2 linked regions of the Homo sapiens genome follow. The protein of the gene in region 1 interacts with the protein of each later gene in a biochemical or structural test. Each region holds a gene or a part of one and is shown on either strand. Other genes may lie near its edges.

Region 1 (3,189 bases):
CTCTGTCGCCCAGGAGGCTGGAGTGCAGTAGTGTGATCTTGGCTCACTGCAGCCTCTACCTCCCGGGTTGAAGTGATTCTCCTGCCTCAGCCTCCCAAGTAGCTGGGATTACAAGTGTGTGCCACCACACCCGGCTAATTTTTTATTTTTTATTTATTTTTTAGTAGAGACGGAGTTTGACCCTGTTGGCCAGGCTGGTCTCGAACTCCTGACCTCAGGCGATCCGCCCACCTCAGCCTCCCAAACTGCCAGGATTACAGGCGTGAGCCACCGTGCCCGGCCTGTTTTTGTGATGGGGTCTTGCTTTGTTGTCCATGATGGCTTCCAACTCTTGGGCTCAAGAGATCTTCTTCCTTCAGCCTGCAGAGTAGCTAGGATTACAGGTGCAAGCCACCGTCCTAAACTTGGACCTGCTTTTTAACTTGAGGAGCACAGGCACCACAATCTAGCATCATAGCTCTCACTTGACCTCCCTTCCCCCTCCACACACACAAAGAACAGACAGGTATCAAGGCTGTTTATTGACTCTTCGCAGCCAGCGGCTCTTCCTCTGCCCCTCTGGGATGCCTAATCCCCGTCTCCCCCCTGGAGCCAAGTGGAGTGGCTCTGAGCTTGACCCCAGGCGCCTTCCTCTTGCCAGGCTTCCCTGCCCCGCAGCCTTGGCCTTCCTGGTTTGCCACAGGGGCTGTTACTCCTTTGATTCTACATCCTCCTCGAAGTGTGTGAGGTAGGCCATCTGAGCCGAATCGCGCGAGCCATAGAGAGTGTTCATGCTGTAGGAGCTGCCATGGAGGCACAGGGCTGCAGGCAGGAAAGGCGGGCGTGAGGCTGTGCTGGCGGCGCCTGCGCCCGGCTTCCCTCGTCCCACACTCACCTTTGGTAACATTGACTGTGTTGGCCGCCAAGATGTCCGCCTGAATGCTGTCTATTTTCATGTACAAGTCCTCAGCGTTGCTCTGAGGACAGGAGCAAGGGGGACCCGGCTGGGGTGCCAGGGCAGTCTGGACTTGGAGTTGGGCTTGGCAGAGGGATGTTGCAGGTGGGGGGCGGGTCGGCAGCCTGACCGAAAGGGCAGGAAAGGGAACAGGAAGGTGGCGGGTGGAGGAGCCTACGCCAGAGCAGTCCCTCCTGCAGCTGGTGGCCAGGTCCACTCTGCATGTGGCGCGCTCCAGGATGGGGACTGTCTGAAGGGGCATCACACTGTCCGAGCCGCCATCTGCTCATTGCGGCGGGGCAGGAAGGGCGCACTTACCAGGAAGAGCTGGTAGAGTTCCTCCCCCATGCACTTGCGCACGTGCTCCGCCACCAAGGGGAACATCTGCACGAAGCACTGCGCCGCGCGGGCGAGGCGGCGTGACTGCGGGGGCGACGGGGCTGCGGGTGCCGCCGCCCTTCCCGCCCCCTAACCAGCCGCCGCGCGCACCTCCAGCGTGAGGCTGGCCAGCCGCTGGCTGTTGCTGTGGTCCGTGTTGCCCATGGCGGCCATTAGGCCACGCACCACGCGCAGGTACAGCAGCTCCTCGGCGATGCTCATGTCGTTGCGCGCCAGGACCCTGGGCCGGGGGTTCGGGCTGGGGCGACGCCCTGGGGCTCACCCGGCGCACACCCCCGCCCACCCGGCGCACGGAGCGCTCCCGGGGCCCGCCGGCAGCGCCAAGCCAGGCTTGCTGCAGCTACCCACTAACCCCTGCCCGCTTACCCGATGGCCTTGGCGGCCGCGGCCTGCTGCAAAAACATCGGCAGGCTGGGGGTGAGCTGGAGAACCGAGGGGTCTGAGGAGGGGGCAGCCGTGAGGCAAGAGACCGCCCTCCCGTGGCCCAGGCAGCCCCATTTGAGCAGGTCCTTACCACTGAGGATCTTGGCCTGCAGTTTGGAGATCTCCTTGACCGACGGTATCAGCAGCGCCACGAGGCCCTTGAGCAGCGCCTGGCGCACATCGTAACCGACCAGGTCTTTGATCAACTCGATGGCTGCGGAAGGGCAGAGGTGCTGGAGAGAGGCCCCAGGCCCCTCCGCCACCGAGGAAGCAAAGAACCCCGTGAACCAAGTCGCCACTCGTCAGTGTCCTCCTCTTTTACTGATCAGCACTGTGCAGGGCGTGGGGGAGCTGGGAAGGCGAACCTCAGTTGAAGAGCAGGAGGAGGGGGCTGAAGGGGGAGGAGGAAGGGTTGGATGGTGAGCCCACCTGTCGAGGCGGCCTAGGATGTCAGCGCTGGAGGCTGAGACCCCAGAGAGGGGGGCCTTCGCCTTGGAGGAATCCAGGTTTCATGGAGGAGGGAAGGGCTGGGTCTTTACGGGAAGACAAGATGGAGAAAGACAAGGGGTGAGAGGGAGACAGAGAAAGTGGGTGGGAGACTTGTGGCAGGAAATGAGAAAGGGGAAGGAAGGTAGGCGGCAGTTTAGAGAAACTCTCCTTCTAACCATCATCGAGCCCTCTCCACCAGGCAGGGTGCCAGGCTTTCCATACAGCACCCGTGGAAGCTCACCAGAACCAGATGAGGTTCACTTCCCCATTTTACCTTTGCCGAAATTAGACACAGAGAGGTAAACCACTTTGCCTAAGTTACACAGCTAGGAAGTGATGGAAGCAGAAGGAGGGGAGGATTTGGTTAGGAAGGAGAAGGGGACTAGAATTTATGGAGGGCATTTCCTGCAGGGCTTTCCTGTAGATATTTTACAGGCAGTCATTCATTCAGTCCAGCATTCACTCAGTCTTTCGGCACGGCTGCATGTGAACGCCTATGGTGCCAGGCGCGGCATTGGGTGTTGAGGATACAGACTGAATTCATTCATTCGACCAACCCTCCTTAAGCGTGCACAAACAGGCAGCGATGATATGGTGACAGGTGCTGTGGAAGGAGTCAGTGATTGGGCTGTGGGAGCACAAGAGAAAATCGGCAAGGATTGAATGTTTTTGTAAAGAAGAGAAAGGAACCACAGAGCTAGAGGGGGCAGGAGGAGAAGGAGATGCTAAGATGATGGCACACCAGCATAAATGCTACCTTTTTTTTTTTTTTGAGACAGAGCCTCACTCTGTCGCCCAGGCTGGAGTGCAGTGGCGCGATCTCGGCTCACTGCAACCTCCGCCTCCTGGGTTCAAGCAATTCTCCTGCCTCAGCCTCCCGAGTAGGCTGGGATTACAGGCGCCCGCCACCACACCCGGCTAATTTTTTTTTTTTTTTTTTTTTG
Region 2 (2,905 bases), on another chromosome or scaffold:
CTGCAACCTCCACCTACCAGGTTCAAGCGATTCTCCTGCCTCAGCCTCCCGAGTAGCTGGGATTACAGGTGCATGCCACCACTCCCGACTAATTTTTGTATTTTTAGTGGAGACAGGGTTTCACCATGTTGCCCAGGGTGGTCTCAAACTCCTGACCTCAGGTGATCCACCCACCTTGGCCTCCCAAAGTGCTGGGATTACAAGCACGAGCCACCACACCCAGCCAAGATTTGAGCTTTGGATTCAAACTGAACAGAGGCTGGGTGTGGTGGCTCACGCCTGTAATCCCAGCATTTTGGGAGGCTGAGGTGGGAAGATCGCTTGAGACCAGGAGTTTGAGACCAGCCTGGGCAACATAGCAAGAACCCCATCTCTACAAAAAAATTAAAAATTGGTCGGACATGGTGGCATGAGGAGGCTGAGGTGGGAGGATCGCTTGAGACCAGGAGTTGGAGGCTGCAGTCAGCTATGATCACACCACTGCACTCCAGCCTGAGCAACCCTGCCTCTAAAAACAAACAAAAAATGGAATTGAACTGATCGGATGGCCTAGGAGGTGGGTTCTATTATTGTTCCCATTTCACAGATGAAGAAACTGACTTTGTCTGACTCCAAACATTCTGCTTATGCTCCATGCTGACAACCACTTTACAATGAATGAATCAACTGGAAAGAAAAGATTCATGAAGGGGTTCCCCTAAGAAGCTGGCACTCCCTGTGCCTCTGGAACACGGAGTCATTCTGCAGATGGGCTGGGTGAGGTCTCCAGCCCTGGAAACTGCACATTCCTCAGCTTCCCATTTCACCGAGGGCACTAGAGCTCACCCCACTGTTTGGTAGATACAGGGTGATGCTCTAAAATGAACCCACCATCCAAGTCTCTGCTTCCCCCTGAGCAAGAACAGGGGAGCCTGTGGCGTCCCGATGCGCGTCGGGCACTGGCTGAGCACTTCTCACGTGCTGACCTGTCTAATCCGCACCGCCAGCCTAGGAGCCCGTGAGATCATTGTCTCATTCCACAGATGAAGAAACTGAGGCTGAGAGAGGTGGGCTGACTTGCCTGAGATCGCCTGGTGGAAATGAACTCTGCTCGGGCCTCTTGGGGCCTCAGTGGCTCCAGAAATTGCAATGGGTAGACGACGCTGGAGCAGCAGGGGCCCCGAGCCAGTGGGGACAGTTCCGCCCTGCCATCCTGGCCCCACTGCCCCAGCCTCACCTGAAGCACCACCTGCGGTCAGGAGTGCCGTCCGAGCTCTTGCCCACGGTGACCATCTCCCCAGAGCGGAAGGCCTTCCTCAGGAATACGGGGAAGGAGCGCTCAATGTCCAGGATGGTGGTGGCCCACTGCGGGGAGGGAGGGTCAGGAGGGACATCGGTGAGCCTCACAGCCTGCGCCTGCCGCTCTGGTGGCAGAAATGAGACAACGGGCCAGGGTGGGCCCAGAACTAGGCATTTAGACTCCTACTCCCCACTAGACACAGGGTTTATAAACTCAAATACCCACAGGTGGCAGGCAGGAAAACAAATGGGTGAAACAGGATCAGGTGCAGAAAGGCTGCCGCCCAAGCCCTATCACACTTACACAGCAGTTGCCTCTCAGTGAGGGAGGGGTAGAGACTGGGGAGAACAGGGAGCAAATGCCCACGTGTAAGGGGGCAGCTGCCACTCACCCCACCTGAGGGCTGCCAGGCAGGAATCCGGACCCTGCACTGCCTGGAGCTTCCAACTTTTCAAGAAAAGCCAGAAATCTGGGTTTTCATAGGGAATCTCTTAATTTTTAAATTTTGCAGTTTTTTGTTGTTGTTGTTGTTTTTAATATAATGGTCTGATGCTGGGTGCAGTGGCTCACACCTGCAATCTCAGCACTTTAGGAGGCCAAGGCAGGTGGATAGCTTGAACTCAGAAGTTCAAGACCAGCCTGGGCAACATGGTGAAACCCCATCTTTACAAAAAATACAAAAATTAGCCGGGTGAGGTGGTGCACACCTTAGCCCCAGCTACTCGGGAGGCTGAGGACAGAGAATCACTTGAGCCTGGGAGGCAGAGGTTGCAGTGAGCCAAGATCACACCATTGCACTCCAGCCCACAGGATGCCCAGTTTGCATCCTGTGAGTAATGCCCAGTGGGGAAACTGAGGCCCAATGAAGTAAGCAATATAGATAAAGGTTAAGAGCAGGCCAGAGCTGTTTCCCTCAGACCCAGTCCTGGGAGGACAACCTTGGGCCCTTTTTTCTCACTGCACCATTTTCCTGAAATGCACAGTCAAGGTAAACACGGGTGCTGTATTCCTGGGCCGTGGGGCAGCACTGTTTATTAGGACACCAGGTTTGTAGGCTGCACCTGGCCTGGGAGGGCTGTGATCCCAGGGCCTGTTCTTTCCAGGATTGCATAGAAAGCTTTTGGTAAGTAAAAACTTTCTGCAGCTCCCCGGGCCAAGGCGGCCCCTGTCCCCATTGGTTTCTCCTCTAGGAAGCATGCTCACAGTTGCTAGAAAAAGACCCCCATGAGAATGCTGACATCCCTGTGCTGGAGTGCTAGAGCACAAAAGCTGCCCCTGGGCTCAGCGTGGGACCCCTGCTGAAACGCTGATGCCCACGGAGCACTTTCTGAGCCGGCAGAAGTCACTCAGTCATGCTAGGTGGAGCCGACTGTGTCCTGTGAGCTGGACCACAAGGAGAATCTGAGCCCACTGCTGGCAGCCAGGCAAGAAGCCACCTCAAAATTCACTAGGCAGCTCTGGGAAGTCAGCAGCAGCCTCTGATGCCCATTTTACCGACAGAGAAGTGGAGGGAGAATGAGAAGACACTGCTTGCTCAGAGTGGAAGGCCGAGGAAGCCAGTCGGGTGGGTCTCCTCGGAAGGACGAGGGTGGCTGGTAGAGTGGGGCTGGGGGCCCTGGGGCCTCA

The links. The genes of interacting proteins can lie anywhere in the genome.
Region 2: the proteins of ARMH1 (region 1) and TRPV4 interact in a test that uses a peptide from one of them, tested with the Homo sapiens proteins (one large-scale study listed by BioGRID).

The regions. Positions count from the first base shown.
Region 1 is NC_000001.11:44,722,903-44,726,091, reverse strand, and holds the end of ARMH1 (armadillo-like helical domain containing protein 1), read right to left. Parts: intron 2,058-3,189; exon of another isoform or gene 1,971-2,057; coding exon 1,848-1,970; exon of another isoform or gene 1,773-1,847; coding exon 1,700-1,772; coding exon of another isoform or gene 1,592-1,699; exon of another isoform or gene 1,572-1,591; coding exon of another isoform or gene 1,554-1,571; coding exon 1,424-1,553; exon of another isoform or gene 1,331-1,423; coding exon 1,253-1,330; coding exon of another isoform or gene 1,249-1,252; exon of another isoform or gene 1,060-1,248; coding exon of another isoform or gene 957-1,059; coding exon 875-956; intron 802-874; coding exon 689-801; 3' UTR 501-688; downstream 1-500.
Region 2 is NC_000012.12:109,785,494-109,788,398, forward strand, and holds part of TRPV4 (transient receptor potential cation channel subfamily V member 4), read right to left. Parts: intron 1,404-2,905; coding exon of another isoform or gene 1,383-1,403; exon of another isoform or gene 1,345-1,382; coding exon 1,217-1,344; intron 1-1,216. UniProt on the Homo sapiens protein: Non-selective calcium permeant cation channel involved in osmotic sensitivity and mechanosensitivity. Activation by exposure to hypotonicity within the physiological range exhibits an outward rectification.